Linked DNA regions of Homo sapiens: region 2 is linked to region 1. The links come from fine-mapping of genetic effects on gene expression. A gene starts in region 1. The other region holds a variant in brackets. All regions are shown on one strand. Distances are from middle to middle.

What was found. PIP is the estimated chance that this variant, and not a neighbour inherited with it, causes the effect.
Region 2: its variant is fine-mapped to the expression of ANKRD40 in lymphoblastoid cells after a statin (CAP, PIP 0.93).

Annotation. Positions count from the first base shown.
Region 1 is chr17:50,701,912-50,711,457 of GRCh38, forward strand. It overlaps ANKRD40 (ankyrin repeat domain 40), which reads right to left and starts at 6,003. Exons shown (of 5, transcript NM_052855.4): 1 at 5,610-6,003. The coding sequence starts at 5,743. RefSeq lists silencers at 5,339-5,608, 5,739-5,948.
Region 2 is chr17:50,667,423-50,676,968 of GRCh38, forward strand. ABCC3 (ATP binding cassette subfamily C member 3) reads left to right here. Exons shown (of 31, transcript NM_003786.4): 12 at 132-335; 13 at 441-587; 14 at 1,008-1,095; 15 at 1,431-1,497; 16 at 1,718-1,844; 17 at 1,930-2,106; 18 at 5,549-5,716; 19 at 6,047-6,236; 20 at 7,940-8,054; 21 at 8,209-8,353; 22 at 8,461-8,668; 23 at 8,856-9,166. Among named protein-coding and RNA genes, the nearest start is that of ANKRD40, 36 kb to the right of the region's middle. The variant A/T (reference allele first, on the strand shown) is at 4,739.

The DNA of each region.
Region 1 (9,546 bases):
TGATGTCTCAGAGTGACATTCTACATTATGGTTCATTAGAATTAGATTATCCAGGTTCCTTTAAGGTGTATTCCATGATGCAATGACAAAATTATTGCTAATTTGGGAAAAATAAGAGTCTCGTTAAGTTTGGGAGAGAAGAGTCTTGATCAAGCTCCCTGAAGGCAAGGAAGTGTTTGCTTGGCATGTATTAATTAATATTTACTGAATGGGCCAGGCACGGTGGCTCACACCTGTAATCCCAGCACTTAGGGAGGCCAAGGCAGGTGGATCACTTTAGGTCGGGAGTTTGAGACCAGCCTGCCCAATAGGGTGAAACCCCATCTCTACTAAAAATACAAAAATTAGTGTGATGGTGCATGTCTGTAATCCCAGCTACTGGGGAGGCTGAGGCAGGAGAATTGCTTGAACCCAGGAGGTGGAGGTTGCAGCGAGCCAAGATTGTGCCACTGCACTTCAGCCTGGGCAACACAGCAAGACTCCATCTCAAAAAAAAAAAAAGTACCAAATGAGTAAACTAAGGATAAAGTGGACCTTGCTTGAAGTAGAAGGATCCAATCTACCCTTGATTCTGGGCAAACTGGAACCTTGAGTGTGTTTGTGTGTGGATGTCTGTGGCACAGGCTTAAAAAGTGAACAATTATAATGATAAGTGAGCCCTCAAAAATGAATGAAGCATGATGAGAAAAATATGCTCCCTTTTGGAAATAAAATGCTCACTTGCTAGTAGTAGATCACTTGTTCGTGGCAAGCTTGAGAGTAAAGGAGGTAATTTACTACCAGTGGGTCTGAGAGACTCTGGGACAAACCAACTTGCTAAACTACCACCCATGTAAAGCAGGGTTAAGTCAACATAGCGTGGCCCCCACAGCCCTGTGCCTTAGTGATCATCATTTACCGTCCAGAGCTGTGCGGCTCTGGGCAGCCATAACTCAGAGCCCCTGCAGCCAGGTAATATTTTCAAGTTCTTCATGAACCAAGGGTTATGCATGACACTTGAATTACAACTGATGTGGGGGAATGATTAGTGATCAATCTAATTGATAGATTACTCTATCTTTGAACTTCAACTCCTTAAGCTTTACATTTGCAGTCAAAATATCTTATTAGTGTCAGAAACTATTTCAGACCTGAGGCACTGGGTGTCATTCATCAACAGGGCATCACTCATTGGTGCTGAAATTGTGATTACTGAGCAACTAAGACTTGAAAGCAGTCACCATTCTGCTTTGCAAATGCAAGAGAGTACGTTTTTTTGAGGGTAACCTTATATTCCATTATCTAGCATATTGCTTCATAATAAGAAAACAACAACAATGGCTAATACAGGTATAATGCTTTACGTGTTGGACATTGTTCTAAAGGCATTACATGTATTAACTTATTTAATCCTCTAAACCCATGAGGTAATACTACTGTCAACATTCCCCCCATTTTACAGAAGAGGAAACAGACATCAGCAAATAAATAAGCAAAGCACGCAGTACGCTAGGTGGTGATGAAGTATGACAGCAATAGTAAAGCAGGGAAAGGCATTAGGGAATGACAGAGGTTGGAAAGGGGCATTGTGCAACTTTAAATTGAGGGCCCAGGAAAAGCCTTGCCAAGAAGGTGACATCTAAACTAAAATCTGAAGGTGGTGAGGAAGCAAACCATGTGATATCTGGAGGGAAAGCATTTAAGAGAGTGGGAAGACAAAACGCAAAGATCTTGAATCAGGACTGTCTGGTATTCCAGAGAAAGCAAGGAGGCCAGGGGAAAAAGGTAAGCAGAAGGGCAAATCCCATGAGATTAGCACAGAGGTAAGGAGGGAAGATGTGGGGACAGGAAGTAGAAATTGTAGGACCCTGTAGGCTTTTACTGAGTGAGATAGGAGCCATTTTTGAGCAGAGTGAAATGATCTGACTTATGTTTTAAGTCAGGATCCCTCTGACCACTGTGTTAATTAAGAAGACTGTATGATATAAGCTTAGGAGCAAGGACACTAGTAGGAGGCTATTGTAATAATCCAAGCAAGAGAAACAATGGTGGCTTTGTATCAGAGGTGTAGTGGTAGGGTTAGTGAGAAGTAGTCAGATTCTGACTGTATCTGAAGGTGGAGCTCATAGAATTGGCTGACTGGATGTCGGCTATGAAAGACAGGAGGCAAGCAGGAGGCAAGCAGGGTGCCAAGGGTTCTGGCCTGAGCACTCCTGAGAGGCTGAGGACTCAGAGGAGCAGGCTTGAGGTGGTAGAGGGATGAGGGGAGACTTGGAATTCAATCTTGGACATGTTGAGTTTGAGGGGCCTATTAGACAGTTCCTCCAATTAAATCTACAAGAGGCCGGGCGCGGTGGCTCACGCCTATAATCCCAGCACTTTGGGAGGCCGAGGCGGGCAGATCACCTGAGGTCAGGAGTTCGAGACCAGCTTGGCTAACATGGTGAAACCCCATTTCTACTAAAAATACAAAAAACTAGCCAGGCGTGGTGGCACACACCTGTAATCCTAGTTACTTGGGAGGATGAGGCAGGAGAATCGCTTGAACCCAGGAGGTGGAGGATGCAGTGAGCTGAGATCACGCATTGCACTCCAGCCTGGGTGACAAGAGTGAAACTCCATCTCAAAAAAAAAAAAAAAAAAAAAAACCTATAAGAAGCCTCTTCAGGCTACCTCAGAATCACTTCACTAAACACCTCCTATGGGGCAGACATTGTGTTTAGGAGGGTAGGTCTGGCATCAGATACCAGGTTTGTTTTCTGGCTCCACTAGTTACTGTCAATCCTATGACCTTGGGAAGGGGCACTGTGAAAAGTGAGGAAACAACTTACGGTTTCTGGGCCTCAGTTTCTTCATCTGTAAATGGAGAGAACAGTAACTATGTCCCCAGGTAGTTGTGAACAAGCTAACACATGTAAAACACTTAGAACCCTATCTGAGCTGGCCGGGCACGGTGGCTCACGCCTGTAATCCCAGAACTTTGGGAGGCAGAGTCAGGCGGATCACAAGGTCAGGAGATCGAGACCATCCTGGCTAACACGGTGAAACCCCATCTCTACTAAAAATACAAAAAATTAGCCGGGCGTGGTGGCGGGCACCTGTAGTCCCAGCTACTCGGGAGGCTGAGGCAGGAGAATGGCGTGAACCCAGGAGGCAGAGCTTGAAGTGAGCCAAGATGGCACCTGGCACCACTGCACTCCAGCCTGGGCGAGAGTGCGAGACTCTGTCTCAAAAAAAAAAAAAAAAAAAAGAACCCTATCCTATCTGTGCTGCAAAGCAAGTTCAATAAATGTTAGCTATTTATGCTTCATCTCATTAAGGGCTCACAATACTCTTCTGGAACAAGTAGAAAATGAAGCATCTCAGGCAAAGTCCCATAGCTAGGCAGGAATGGAGGAGAACCTGCAGGAAAGACCAGGCTCCTTCTACACAACACCGCCTCCCAGTGCCAAAATGGTAATTCACAGCTTTGAACCAGAGGAATGCTGAGAAAAGGTTACATACACAACAGCAAGTTTGCAAAGACCTGTAAAAAAAAAAAAAAACAGAACAAAAAGGTAGTATCCACTGTTTCCTGGCCTTCTGGACAGCTGTCCAGGCTGTTTTCTTTAGGGAAATTAGGTAGAAAAAAATTTTTTTTTGAGACTGGGATCTCACTATGTTGCCCAGGCTGGTCTCAAACTTCTGGACTCCAGTGATCCTCCTGCCTTGGCCTCCCAAAGTGCTGGGATTACAGGCGTGAGCCACCAGGTCCTACCAGGAAGATAGACTTTTTTTTTTTTTTTTTTTGAGACAGAGTCTCGCTCTGCCACCAGCCTGGAGTGCAGTGGTGTGATCTTGGCTCATTTCAACCTCCAACTCCCTGGTTCAAGTGATTCTCCTGCTGCAGCATCCCAAGTAGCTGGGATGACAGGCACACACCGCTACCCCTGGCTAATTTTTGTATCTTTAGTAGAGACAGGGTTTCACCATGTTGGCCAGAATGGTCTCGAACTCCTGACATCGTGATCTGCCCACCTTGGCCTCCCAAAGTGCTGAGATTACAGGCGTCAGCCACCGCGCCAGGTCCAGGTAGGTAGACTTTTGAGGCAGTCTGGAAACCATGGTTCTGGTGCTATCATATTAATAGTTATGTGGCCTAGGGCAAGTTATTCTCTGTGGTTGAGCCTCTCTCCATTGTCCCTTTCAGTTCCAAAATGGATGATTCCACTTAAAAAAACAAAATGTAAACTCACTTTTTTTTTTTTTTGAGGTAGAGTCTTGCTCTGTCGCCCAGGCTGGAGTGCAGTGGTGCAATCTTGGCTTACTGCAACCTCCGCCTCCCAGGTTCAAGTGATTCTCCTGCCTCAGCCTCCCAAGTAGCTGAGACTACAGGCATGCACCACCACGCCCAGCTAATTTTTGTATTTTTAGTAGAGACGGGGTTTCATCATGTTGGCCAGGATGGTCTTGATCTCCTGACCTCGTGATCCGCCCACCTCAGCCTCCCAAAGTGCTACTCACTTTAACTCTAAGCTAGCAAAATAGTCTGGCTAAGCATTACCTGAATCAAAATTTTAAATTTTAAATGCAGAGAGCGGAATAATGCCACATTCAGTAACTTTCTGTTTTGACCACCAGCAACATCTTAAGATGAGACTCCTTATTTAATTGGGAAGAATTCAATCTGCAGGCAGACATCTAAAGTCTTGGGTGACATTCTGTATTTGAAATTGTAATAAGAAAACTGGCCAGGAACGGTAGGCTCACATCTGTAATCCCAGCACTTTTGGAGGCTGAGGCGGGTGGATCACTTGAGGCCAGGAGTTTGAGACCAACCTGGCCCCATCTCTACCAAAAATACCAAAAAAAAAAAAAAAAAAAATTAGCCGGGTGTGGGGGCGCGTGCCTGTATTCCCAGCTATTTGGGAGGCTGTGGCAGGAGGATCACCTGAGCCGGGGAGGTAGAAGTTGCAGTGAGCCGAGACTATGCCACTGCACTCCACCCTGGGCGACAGGGCAAGACCCTGTCTCAAAAAAAAAAAAAAAAAAAAAAAAAAAAAGAAAGAAAATAATCGATAGGATAAACAAATGAGTTTTCCCTCAAACAGGCAACTACAGGCAGCAGCAGCAAATCGGTTGCAGTGAAACAACAGAGAAGCAGAATGGTGATGCAAATGTGTTTTTTTTTCCTGGTCTTGGCTAAGGAAATCGTGCTAGTTTATAAAATTCATATTTGCTCAGTTGCTTATGCTTTTAGCTCTGCAAGATGCGTTCTCCAGAAGCACCTACGGCAAATTAACTCAACACTCGAATTGGGGTGAGCTCCAACGCATAGTCGCTGAGAATCACTGCCTCCAGCACCGCTCTGACCAAGTGAGCCGGGAGCGCGGGGGAAGGGGGTAGGGCACCAGAGTCCCAGTGGGCGCTGCCCCGAGTGGACCACGTGGGCCGGGATTTGGGCAGGACGCGCTCCCGACCGCACGAGGCATGGGGGCCAGGGCTGGCCTCAAGAGAGCACAATCTCGGAGGCCCGAGGTGGCAGGCCTCGCCGTAGCCAGGCGTCCCGCGCTGGGCCCAGGTCGCGACTGACTGCCCCACGCCTTCCGACCGGCTGCCCTGACCCTAGGCCTCCCCCGCTCCCCACTTACCAGCCGTTGACCTCATTTTGGGAGTTCACATCCACCCCGCTCTCCACCAGTTTCTGCACCTCCCGAATGTCCCCTAAGGCCGCGGCCTCCCGCAGCCTCTCCTGCTGCTCCTTCTGCTCTAGGAGGGCGTTCATCTTCCCACAGCCCCAGGCCCCCGCCCAGGCCCGCCTGCCCCGCCCCGCCCGGGGCCTGTCAGCGCCGCCGCCGTCGCCGCGGCCCGCTCCCGGCCATGGGGAGGGAGCGCGGAACTCGCCCGCCCTGCTCGCGCCGCTGCCCGCGCCCGCCCCGGGACTTCCGCTCCCTCCCGCGGGCCGCCCCTGCTGCTCCCGGCCCGCAGGCCCAGGCCTCCTCCCGGGCCGCGCCTCCCGAAGGCCGGCTCCGGGGGACCCTGTTCAGTGTGACAACGCTGACCCAGATATTTTCCGTTCCGACCCGGGGCTCCGGCGCCCGGGCTGGCTGTTTATGTAACTACTGCACAATATTATATGCCATGATTCATTGACTATTTTTAGACTTCCCCACCCCGCAGTTTCAAGGGAGGAGGACAAGACACATGAAAAGAGAAAAAAGCATAGCTGAGGGCCAGAAAAGCCTTATCCTCTGGTGCAGGCTGTTTACCAGGCATCCAAAATAATTGGTGGGTTCTTTTTATTGGGATTTGGGGTTTTTTTGTTATTTTCCCCCAGTTTGGTTGGCTCCTTTTCCTTATCTGAGCCAATTCGTGCCCAGCAGGATGGGGAAATGGGCTGAAAACGATCCTACTATAATACGCCCATTATTACAGAGATAGATTAGACTCTTCTTCTTTTTGACAGTGCTTGGGGACAATTCAGTTAGAATATTTATTTCAATTGTTGTTGTTTTACATCTCATTTTAGACAGGATTTCTTCTAACCTGGCTTTCAGGAAAAATATTTATATTGTGCTCACAGTTTATGAACTGTAATTACTGCTTACAGATTGTAATTAGTTACTCTTCATGAAGGCCATATAAGGAGAAAAGAAAGGAAAAACACCAAAGAGGCTTTGGAGGTGTCCTGGTCCTGATTCCAAGTGCTCTGGGAAGAGCTGTGGTGTACATGTAAACAGCATTTTGCTTCACTTCTTGCCCGATCTATCTAATGAGGCTCAGAGCCTCAGTTGGCACTGTTTTATACCCAGTGGGAGAAAAAGGAAATATTGTTTTGTTGAGCCCAGGTGCCCTGAAGAGATCCTCCGATGTGGCACAGGATGGAACTTTACAGATGGGGTCAAGATTAAGGAAATAGCCCTGGGGAGGAAGGGAGGAAGGCCTGAACAAGGAGAGATGAAATAGGAAGGGATAAATTTAGGCATGGAGTTTTCATTTCCGTCTCTTGGGGCTGCTGGGATCTGCACAGCAAGCATTTTTCTTGCTACAGTTTAAGAAAAACCAATGTCTGTTTGTTTAGTATGATACAGTAATTCACACAGTACACAGTGCACACCAGGTGGTGCTGAATATAAACTGACTACACACTTAAATTGACCCCCATGGCAAATTGTAACCCTGCTTGAGCTTACATTTTCATTTGTTCCCCCAATTTAAATTTTAATTCTCACATCCAGCATGATACTCTATCTGAAACTGATGTGTATGGCACTGGATTTGAGTCCTTCAACACAATTTCAGTGACATGGGAGTAGGTAGTGGCTTGTTGTTTTTGTTTGCTTGTTTTTGAGACAGAGTCTCACTCTGTTGCCCAGGCTGGTGTTCGGTGGGGCGATCTCTGAGCTCCTTGCAACCTCTAAGTCCAGGTTCAGGCAATTCTCCTGCCTCAGCCTCCCGAGCAGCTGGGATTACAGGCCTGTGCCACCATGCTCGGCTAATTTTTGTATTTTTAGTAGACATGGGGTTTCACCATGTTGGCCAGTCTGGTCTCCAGCTCCTGACCTCATGTGATCTGCCAGCCTCAGCCTCCCAAAGTGCTGGAATTACAAGCATGAGCCACCGCGCCTGGCCTGTTTTTGTTTTTTTGTTGTTGTTGTTTTTTGTTTTTAATGCAGTTAAAAAAAATTGTTCGTGACTGCACCCCAAAGTCTATGAGTTCTTTTTTTTTTTTTTTTTTTTTTGAGATGGAGGAGTTTCGCTCTCATTGCCCAGGCTGGAGTGCAACAGCGCGATCTCGGCTCACCACAATCTCCACCTCCCAGGTTCAAGCGATTCTCCTGCCTCAGCCTCCTGAGTAGCTGGGATTACAGGCATGTTCCACCATGCCTGGCTAATTTTTTGTATTTTTAGTAGAGACGGAGTTTCTCCATGTTGCTCAGGCTGGTCTCAAACTCCCGACCTCAGGTGATCCGCCCGCCTCAGCTTCCCAAAGTGCTGGAATTACAGGCATGAGCCACCGCGCCCGGCCCCCAAAGTCTATGAGTTCTCTTTATGAGAGTTTGTCAAATGTCCCTTCCTTAAAAGGATTATAGCATGTACCCTACATAACTGCTGTATCCGTGAATATTAGTAGATCTTCTTAAACTCAACCTCTACTTACTCTGATTTCAGTCTTCTGTTTATTATCTTCAGATTAAAAAAAACAAAATTTTATCCACAAACAAAACTTCTGATCTTGGATATAACTGAATGTAACCTGCTGGCTGTTCTATTACTACTTCCATTTATCTCTACTCTGTCTTGTCTCTAGGGAACTACCTAACTCACTGAACTGTATTAAGCATGTGCTGTTTGCCAGGCACTGTTCTAGTCACTGAGGATGCTGCTGCAAATGAATCAGAGTCCTTGACTTTGAAGAACAGTTTATCAGGGGAGACAAGGCGAACAATAGAATGTGCTATGCATTACAATAGAAACAATGTGGCATAGTGGTAGTGAGTGTGGAGACAGACGCCAGACTGCCTGGGTTTGTATGCCAGCTTTGCCACTCATATAATCTTGAATGAGTTACTCAACTTTCCTGTGCCTCAAATTCTGCACCTGCGAAACAGGAATAATAGTAGCACCCACCTTGCAGGATTGTTCTATGGATTGAATGAATGGATATGTGCAAAGCCTAGACATCTTAAACATTCATTGGATCATAGGTGGGTTACAACAAGGTTTACGTTAGGAAAACTTAACCTGGCAGAATGGGAGGGCAGTGGTGGTCAAGAAACAAGGATAATGTTCGGGTTTCTGGATGATTAGATGGTGGTGTGATTTATTGAGATTTGGGACAAAGGATGAAGAGAAGGTTTGAGGTTTGGTCATGAATTCACTTTTGAATCTGTTGACTTGAACTTTCTGAGACCTTTTAATTACTACTACTCTTTACTATCTGCTACTATCAACTCATTGCCAGGTGCTGCAGGAAGTGCTGTACATGGATTATCTCATTTAATCCTCACAACAACTCCTCTGTAAAACAGGACCATCATTATTATCTGAGGCTCAGGGAGGTAATTAACTTGCCCCAGTGCTGGCCAGGCACGGTGGCTCATGCCTGTAATCACAGCACTTTGGGAGGCTGAGGCGGGCAGATCACCTGAGGTCAGGAGTTTGAGACCAGCGTAGCCAACATGGCGAAACCCCGTCTCTACTAAAAATACAAAAATTAGATGGGCGTGGCGGCAGGTGCTGGAGGCAGAGGTTGCAGTGAGTCAAGATCTCGCCATTGCACTCCAGCCTGGGCAACAGAGTGAGACTCTGTCTCAAAAATAAATAAATAAATAAATAAACAAACTTGCCCAATGCTATACATCGTAGTTTGTGATGGAGCAAGGCTTTGAACTCAAGTTCAACTTCTGAGCCTGTGCTTTCTTTTCTGATTTTCATTTAAATGGATATGTTCAGTAAACAGTTATGTGAATGGGTATTGCATTTAGGAAGGAGATCTGGGCTGGTGATTTGTATTTTGGCAGTCAGCAAAGGGTGCTAGCTGAAGTCATGGGAATAGAAGAGATAGCCCCAAGGGAGTCTGTGAGT
Region 2 (9,546 bases), 34 kb before region 1:
AGTTGTGAGAAGGAATGGTGGGCAGCGTGGAATGGCTGCAATGGATGAGAATGGATGGAAGGTAGGACCCTGTGAGCAGGAGGTCAGGGGAGGGAGCAGGTGTGCCACTGACACTCTTTCTGCCTGCACAGGTAAAGCAAATGAAATTGAAGGACTCGCGCATCAAGCTGATGAGTGAGATCCTGAACGGCATCAAGGTGCTGAAGCTGTACGCCTGGGAGCCCAGCTTCCTGAAGCAGGTGGAGGGCATCAGGCAGGGTGAGCTCCAGCTGCTGCGCACGGCGGCCTACCTCCACACCACAACCACCTTCACCTGGATGTGCAGCCCCTTCCTGGTGAGGCTTGGCACAGGGCTGGGTCCCTGCCTCCAGGGCTCTGGGTGCCCAGGCATGGCCAGGGCTCATTGGACTCTACCCTGACACCACCTCCACGCTGCTCAGGTGACCCTGATCACCCTCTGGGTGTACGTGTACGTGGACCCAAACAATGTGCTGGACGCCGAGAAGGCCTTTGTGTCTGTGTCCTTGTTTAATATCTTAAGACTTCCCCTCAACATGCTGCCCCAGTTAATCAGCAACCTGACTCAGGTAACCCTGGGTAGGGCTGGGGGCTCTACTGGAGTTGGAACAGGTTGTTGGGGTCAGGGAAGGGTCACTTAGGGCAAGGGATAATCAGGGGGAGTTATTGGATTCAGGGAAGGTTGCTAGCATTATGAAGAGCTATTCAAGGTTGAATGAGGTCATTAAGGTCAGGGGTCATTTGGAGTCACAGGTGGTCAGGTCGGGTGTCTGGAAACCTGAGTTCTGTAGATAGCCTCCTCTTACCAACCTGGACTTTCTCTTTGGGCAGTGGGAGCCATGGAAGACTCAGTCGTGGGAGGGACCCCAGTGCTAGTGTCTGGGCCCTCAGGGGGTCCTGCCTAGCCCAGGATGCTGGGGATGGGGCGAGGGTAGGGGTTGGGGGTTGGGAAAGTACAGTCTCTAGGGCTGACTCACATCCTCCCGTAGGCCAGTGTGTCTCTGAAACGGATCCAGCAATTCCTGAGCCAAGAGGAACTTGACCCCCAGAGTGTGGAAAGAAAGACCATCTCCCCAGGTCTAGAGAGCCCCTACCTGGGCTGCCTGCCCCAGTCCTTGCTCCAGAAAAACCTCTGTTTCAAGCTTTTCCTTTGTTCTCTCCTGACCCCTTTTCTTCTTCCTCTGTTCACATCTGCTTCGACTCTGACCTCCTCCCTCTTCCGGGTTCTCTGCTCTCCTCCGCCCTCCTCCACAGGGCTCCCCACATCCCTTTCTTCCTCCCTTTTCCCAAGGATCCCCTCCCCATGGCCCAGGCTCCTCCCCTGTCCTCCTTTCCCCTGCCCCCCAGCCTCCCTGCAGGCTACCCCATCCCTTGAGCTCCCTCCCTGACCCTGCCCACCTTGGTCCTCTCAGGCTATGCCATCACCATACACAGTGGCACCTTCACCTGGGCCCAGGACCTGCCCCCCACTCTGCACAGGTACCAGCTTCTCCCACTCCCTTCCCAGCTGCCCACGGTGGGCTGGAAGTTCAGATCAATAGCAGCACCCTGCAAAGCCTTTGACCAAGAATGCAGGAAGAGCTTCAGCCTGCCAGGGGGGTGTCTGGAAGGGCGGAGGGCTTGGTTCTGCAGGTGGAGGGTTGGAGACCAAAACCCTGATCCCTGCCTCTAACTGGACTCCTGGGGTCCTTGCCCCCAGCCTAGACATCCAGGTCCCGAAAGGGGCACTGGTGGCCGTGGTGGGGCCTGTGGGCTGTGGGAAGTCCTCCCTGGTGTCTGCCCTGCTGGGAGAGATGGAGAAGCTAGAAGGCAAAGTGCACATGAAGGTGAGAGAGGCAGGGGCTCCTGGGCAGGGTGTGGGGCTCAGCCAGGCCTTGGGCAAGCCCCGAGGTAAATTTCTCCTGTGGCCAGGGCTCCGTGGCCTATGTGCCCCAGCAGGCATGGATCCAGAACTGCACTCTTCAGGAAAACGTGCTTTTCGGCAAAGCCCTGAACCCCAAGCGCTACCAGCAGACTCTGGAGGCCTGTGCCTTGCTAGCTGACCTGGAGATGCTGCCTGGTGGGGATCAGACAGAGATTGGAGAGAAGGTACAGAGTCCTCTTCCATCCCTAAGAGGCTAGGGCATAGAGCTGCCCACCTCAACCCAGCCCAGGTCCATATATTCATCCCTTCATTCACACATTGGTGTAACGTTATGCCCAACTCTGTGCCAGGCACTGGGGAAACAGATCTATTAGCAGATCTGTTTAGTGAACAAGTAGGAACTATTGAATATTCTAGGAGCCAGGCTGAAGGCCTGTGCAGGGTACAGGGAGGGCACAGCAGGGAGCCTACATAAGGAAGAGCATCACTTTTTTTTTTTCTTTCTTTCTGAGATAAGGCCTCACTCTGTTGCCCAGGATGGAGTGCCATGGTGACATCATGGGACGCTGCAGCTTGGAACTCCTGGGCTCAAGTGATCCTCTCGCCTCAGCCTCCTGAGTATCTGGGACCACAGGCACATGCCACCATACCCAGCTAAATTTTTAATTTTTTTTAGAGACAGCGTCTTGCCATGTCGCCCAGGCTGGCTCAGGAGATCCTCCCACCCTGGCCTCCCAGAGTACTGGGATTACAGGCATGAGCTGCTGCACCTGGCTGAGCATCACTTTTTTTTTTTAGACAGAGCCTTGCTCTGTCACCCAGGCTGGAGTGCAGTGGCGCAGATCATGGCTCACTGCAACCTCCACCTCCCGGGTTCAAGCAATTCTCGTGTCTCAGCCACCCGAGTAGCTGGGATTACGGGTGCGCACCACCACACTTGGCTAATTTTTGTGTTTTTAGTACAGACGGGGTTTTGCCATGTTGGCCCATCTGGTCTTGAACTCCTGGCTTCAAGTGATCCCCCCGCCTCAGCCTCTCAAAGTGCTGGGATTACAGGCATGAGCACCGTGCCTAGCCTTAAGCATCACTTTTGACCTCAGTTTTAACAACTGAGGAGGAGGAGCTCATCATGTATCTGTTCATTCATTTACCATATATTTATTAAGCACCCACTCTATTCTGGGAAATAGTATACAGTAGTGAATACTAAAATGCCGGGCTAATATCTCTACCTTCATATAGCTCACATTCTAGTGGCAGGAAGAGATAATAAGTAAGATAAATAAGTACAATATATAATATGTTAGATAAATGCTCAGTGGAAAAAATAAAGCGGGGAAGGAATACAGGAATGCCTGCAGAGTTGAATGGTTAAGGTAGCTTGGGAAATCCTCACTGAGAATCAGAGAACTCAACAAAGAGACCGAGTGAGCCTTGTCTGGAGCCAGAAAGCTCTGTCTGGGGCCATGGAACCCTGTATGGGGTCTTGGAGTTCTCTGGCATGACTAGGAGTTGGGAAATGGAGGGAAAAGATAGAGAGAGGCAGAACCCTGATTACCTTGGTTAAGATTTTGGCCTTTACTCTAAAAAACATGGAACACTGGGGAAAATTTGGGGCTTTGCTTTTTAACAATTTTTAACTGTGGTAAAAACCACACATAACATAAAATATATCATCTTGCCCGGCATGGTGGCTCCCAGCACTCTGGGAGGCTGAGGCAGGTGTATCATTTGAGGTAAGGAGTTCAAGGCCAGCCTTGCTAACATGATAAAACCCCATCTCTACTAGAAATACAAACAAATTAGCCGAGTGTGATGGCGTGTGCCTGTAGTCCCAGCTACTCAGGAGGCTGAGGCAGGAGCATTGCGTAAGCCCAGGAGGCGGAGGTTGCAATGAACTGAGATTGATTGTATCACTGCATTCCAGCCTGGGCGACAGAGCAAGACTCTGTCTTAAAAAAAAAAAAAAGAAAAAAAAACTTAATCATTTCTTAGTGTACAGTTCAGCAATGTTAAGTACATTTACATTGCTGTGCAACCGATCTCCAGAACCTTTTCATCTTGCAAAACTAAAATTGTGCCTATTAAGCAACTCCTCATTCCCCACTGCCCCTAGGCCCCAGTAACCACCATTCTATTTTCTGTTCCTAGGAATTTGACTACTTAGTATCTTAGTCCATTTTCTATTGCTTATAAGAGAATGCCTGAAACTAGGTAATTTATAAAGAAAAGAAATGTATTTTGTACAGTTACGGAGGCTGAAGAGTCCACGGTCCAGGGGCTGCATCTGGAGAGGGCCTCCTTGTTGGCGGGGAGTCTGCAGAGTCCCAAGGCCATACAGGGCATCCCATGGCAAGGGGACCGAGCATGCTAGCTCAGGTCTCTCTTCCTTCCTTCCTTTTTTTTTTTTTTTTTTTTTTTTTTTTTTGAGACAAGGCTTCACTCTGTTGCCCAGACTGTAGATTGGAGTACAGCGGCGTGATCTTGGCTCACTGCAACCTCCGCCTCCCAGGTTCAAACGATTCTCCTTCCTCAGCCTCCCGAATAGCTGGGATTACAGGCGCACGCAACTACAGCCCGACTAATTTTTGTATTTTTAGTAGAGATGGGTTTCACCATATTGGCCATGCTGGTCTTGAACTCCTGACTTCAAATGATCCACCCACCTCGACCTCCCAAATTGCTGGGATTACAGGCATGAGCCACCACGCGCGACCTCAGGTTTCTCTTTCTTTCTTATAAAGCCACCGGTCCCACTCCCCCAGTAACCCATTCACGCATCAACCTATTAATCCATAAATGGATCAACCATTCATGAGGGCTCTGTTTTCATGACCTAATCACCTGGTAAATGCC[A/T]CCCCTCAATCCTGCCACACTGGGGGGTAAGTTTCAACATGCACTTTGGAAGGAACAAATATTTCAACCATATCACCTAGGTACCTCACGTAAGTGGAATCATCCAGCATTTGTCTTTTCGTGACGGGCTTATTTCACTTAGCATAATGTCCTCAAGGCATATCCATGTTGTAGCATGTGTCAGAATTTCCCTCCTTGTAAGGCTGAATGATATTTCATTATAGGTATATACACATTTGTGTGCCCATTTATCCGTAGATGGGTTGGGCAGGACACCAAGCTGGGCAGGGTGGTGACCAATGGAGCAGAATGGCCTCACCTGCCCCAGGAGGACTTACCCTTTACCTCTGTCCCTCACAGCATTGCAGGGACAGACTAGGCCCCATGTGAAATATAGATTCAGAAGACTGCTGTTCTGGTCAGGCACAGTGGCTCACACCTGTAATCCCAGCACTTTACTTTGGGAGGCTGACGTGGGCCAATTGCTTGAGCTCAGGAGTTGGAGACCAGGCTGGGCAACATATGGAGATTCTGTCTCTATAAAAAATAAAACATTTTAGTCAGTAGCCAGGCATGGTGGTCCTGCAATCAATCCTAGCTACTCGGGAGGCTGAGGCATGAGAATTGCTCAAACGCGAGAGGCAGAGGTTGCAGTGAGCCAAGATCGCACCACTGCACTCCAGCCTGGGTGAGTGAGACCCCATCTCAGGAAAAAAAAAAAAAAATCTGCCATCCCAAATAACAGTGGACAGGCCGTTGTCTCCCTGTGCCTGTCTGACCCCATTTTTCCCACCCCCCGCCTCCCTCCAGGGCATTAACCTGTCTGGGGGCCAGCGGCAGCGGGTCAGTCTGGCTCGAGCTGTTTACAGTGATGCCGATATTTTCTTGCTGGATGACCCACTGTCCGCGGTGGACTCTCATGTGGCCAAGCACATCTTTGACCACGTCATCGGGCCAGAAGGCGTGCTGGCAGGCAAGGTGAGGCCTGCCAGAGGCTAAGGGGGCTAAGGTGAGATCTGAGGCCCGAAGAGAGAGCTGGTGAGAGGCTGAGGGGTTTGGATGAGACTTGGAGGTGTGGGGGGCGCAAGAAGTGGGCATGTGGGTTGGGCATCAGGAGAAACCTGTGGGGACAACTCCCCCACCTGCGAGGTTCTGAGCAGGCTGTGGCGAGCACAGGGTGAGTCACCCATGTGCCTGTCCAAGCTCCCTGGCACATGGGCACACTTCACACTCACTCTGTGGCTCCGTGCCTGTGCCAGGGGTGTGCTGGAGGGTGGTAGGGGTGAGAGCCTGCTGCCTTCTCCCCAGACGCGAGTGCTGGTGACGCACGGCATTAGCTTCCTGCCCCAGACAGACTTCATCATTGTGCTAGCTGATGGACAGGTGTCTGAGATGGGCCCGTACCCAGCCCTGCTGCAGCGCAACGGCTCCTTTGCCAACTTTCTCTGCAACTATGCCCCCGATGAGGACCAAGGGCACCTGGAGGACAGCTGGACCGGTATCTGCCATCCTGGGCCCTCTGATTCCCATGCCTTCCCAGCATTCCCCCTGTCTGGGGTCTCTGAGTGTGTCTAGACTGGCCTAGTGTTGTGCCAGGCAGGTTCTGGGAAACTTGGGCCATCTGTGTGACAGTCACCAGAGGTAAAGTAAACTGGACATAGTCGGGTCCCACTGCCTCCTCCATCCTACTCTACCCTAACTGTGGGAACTCAGATCCTCCGCCCCGGTCTCAGAGCCTGTTTTCTTTCTTTCTTTCTTTCTTTCTTTCTTTCTTTCTTTCTTTCTTTCTTTCTTTCTTTCTTTCTTTCTTTCTTTCTTTCTCTCTCTCTCTCTCTCTCTCTCTCTCTCTCTCTCTCTCTCTCTCTCTCTCTCTCTCTTTCTTTCTTTCTTTCTTTCTTTCTTTCTTTCTTTCTTTTTTTTCTTTTGAGGCAGAGTCTGGCTCTGTCGCCGGGCTGGAGTGCAGTGGTACAATCTCAGCTCACTGCAACCTCTGCCTCCCAGGTTCAAGTGATTCTCCTGCCTCAGGCTCCCGAGTAGCTGGGACTACAGGCATGCGCCACCACGCCTGGCTAATTTTTGTATTTTTAGTACAGACATGGTTTCACCATGTTGGCCAGGATGGTCTCGATCTCTTGACCTCGTGATCTGCCTGCCTCGGCCTCCCAAAGTGCTGGGATTACAGGTGTGAGCCACCTTGCCCGATCTCAGAGCCTGTTTTCCATCTGTTGAAAGCATAGGAGGGCCCAGGCCCAGCTTGTGTGGCAAGGCTGCTTCATGGATAAATAGTTTGGCAAGTATGCAAGTGCTTAGCAAAGCCGCTTATTTATCAACCAAAATTTATTGGACAATCACTATATACAGGCACTGTTCCAGACACTAAGCTATAGCAGTGAGCAAACAAAAAAATTATAGTCCTCATGGAGCTTGTTGACGTCTCTGGGCTCACAACATGCCCCTGGCTCCTTGTTGCCCAGACCCAGCTCCCCAGCCCCCAATTCTGGATTGGCTCACAGACCTTTTCCTGGGCTTTCTTGCCTATGGCTATACATACAGCCAACGTGCCTTGAGCATTTACCAAGTGCTGTGCCCCTCGCTCACACACTGGACACATTTTCTTTTAAGCCTACAGTCATGCAGATTTTTTTTTTTTTTTTTTGGGGACAGTTTCTCACTCTGTTGCCCAGGCTGGAGTGCAACGGTGCGATCTTGGCTCACTGCAACCTTTGCCTCCTGGGTTCAAGCGATTCTCCTGCCTCAGCCTCCCGAGTAGCCAGGATTATAGGTGCCCGCCACCACGCCCGGCTAATTTTTGTATTTTTAGTAGAGACGGGGTTTCACCATGTTGGCCAGGCTGGTCTCGATCTCCTGACCTCGTGAGCTGCCTGCCTCAGCCTCCCAAAGTGCTGGGATTACAGGCGTGAGCCACCATGCCCGACCAAGGACGTGAGTTTTAAGCTCAGCCAGTCTAACTCCAGAGCCCAAGTTCCTAACCCTTGTATTTGAGTCCGTTTCTCCATAATTTGTGAAGAGAGTTTTTCTTGTTGCTTAACCCAAGTCTTTCTTGTTGCCCTTTCAATCCCCCTCATTTTATTTTCATGCTTGTCCATTGAACCCCTTTCATTAGAGTGGGGAATGGGAGATACCAGGGGCTTGCAGGGAGAACTAGCTGAACCCTATCTCCTTCCTCCCACCCTACTGCAGCGTTGGAAGGTGCAGAGGATAAGGAGGCACTGCTGATTGAAGACACACTCAGCAACCACACGGATCTGACAGACAATGATCCAGTCACCTATGTGGTCCAGAAGCAGTTTATGAGGTGAGTTCCTGAGAGCTCCCAGCCCTCCCGGAGGCTGTATCAGGCCTCCCCAGGCCCTGCCAGATGGGGTGCAGGTTTCTCCCTGACACTCCCAGCCTCTGTCCTGGGGGGTGCTTGAGGCCCCCTCCCTGGGCCTGACCAGCTGCCTCCACAGACAGCTGAGTGCCCTGTCCTCAGATGGGGAGGGACAGGGTCGGCCTGTACCCCGGAGGCACCTGGGTCCATCAGAGAAGGTGCAGGTGACAGAGGCGAAGGCAGATGGGGCACTGACCCAGGAGGAGAAAGCAGCCATTGGCACTGTGAGTCGGTGGGGCAAGAGGGGCTGGAGGGGATGGACAGGCAGGCCCCAGCAGCCCCAGGGTTTATGGAGTCCCCTGTCCCTGACTGCCATGGCTGCTCCCTACAGGTGGAGCTCAGTGTGTTCTGGGATTATGCCAAGGCCGTGGGGCTCTGTACCACGCTGGCCATCTGTCTCCTGTATGTGGGTCAAAGTGCGGCTGCCATTGGAGCCAATGTGTGGCTCAGTGCCTGGACAAATGATGCCATGGCAGACAGTAGACAGAACAACACTTCCCTGAGGCTGGGCGTCTATGCTGCTTTAGGAATTCTGCAAGGTGAGCTTGTGGGGGTGTCCAGAAGGGGCTCCAATATCCCTTCTTCTCTGGGCTGCCAGGCCCCCCAAACCGTGCCCTTGCATCCAAGCCTCCCTAACCCACTCTGGTCAACCCGTGTCTCTGATTCTGCCCCTTTGTGCCCGCTCACTAGTCCAGGTGAGCCAGCGCCCTCTGCCTTCTCCAACAGGGTTCTTGGTGATGCTGGCAGCCATGGCCATGGCAGCGGGTGGCATCCAGGCTGCCCGTGTGTTGCACCAGGCACTGCTGCACAACAAGATACGCTCGCCACAGTCCTTCTTTGACACCACACCATCAGGCCGCATCCTGAACTGCTTCTCCAAGGACATCTATGTCGTTGATGAGGTTCTGGCCCCTGTCATCCTCATGCTGCTCAATTCCTTCTTCAACGCCATCTCCACTCTTGTGGTCATCATGGCCAGCACGCCGCTCTTCACTGTGGTCATCCTGCCCCTGGCTGTGCTCTACACCTTAGTGCAGGTGTGGGGTGGGCGTGATTCCAGTGTGGGCGTGGTGTTATTGGGGCGGGGCAACACATGGGCGGGGGCAGCAGGGGTGGGACACTTCAGGCCACCAACATTACAGAGTTTTGTTAGGGGCAGTCGTTGCTTAACATTTATGTTAGGGGAGCCATTACTTAACCTCTTTGAAACTCATTTGCCTCACCTGTAAAATAGAATGACTCATAGACCTTCCTCATGGAGTTGGTGAGAGAATAAAATGAAATAGTTATACATTGTAGCTGGCACTGGGACTTTCCTGTTGGCTTTTTTTTTTTGGGGGGGGGGGGACGGAATCTCGAGTCTCGCTCTGTCGCTCAGGCTGGAGTGCAGCTGCACGATCTCAGCTCACTGTAACCT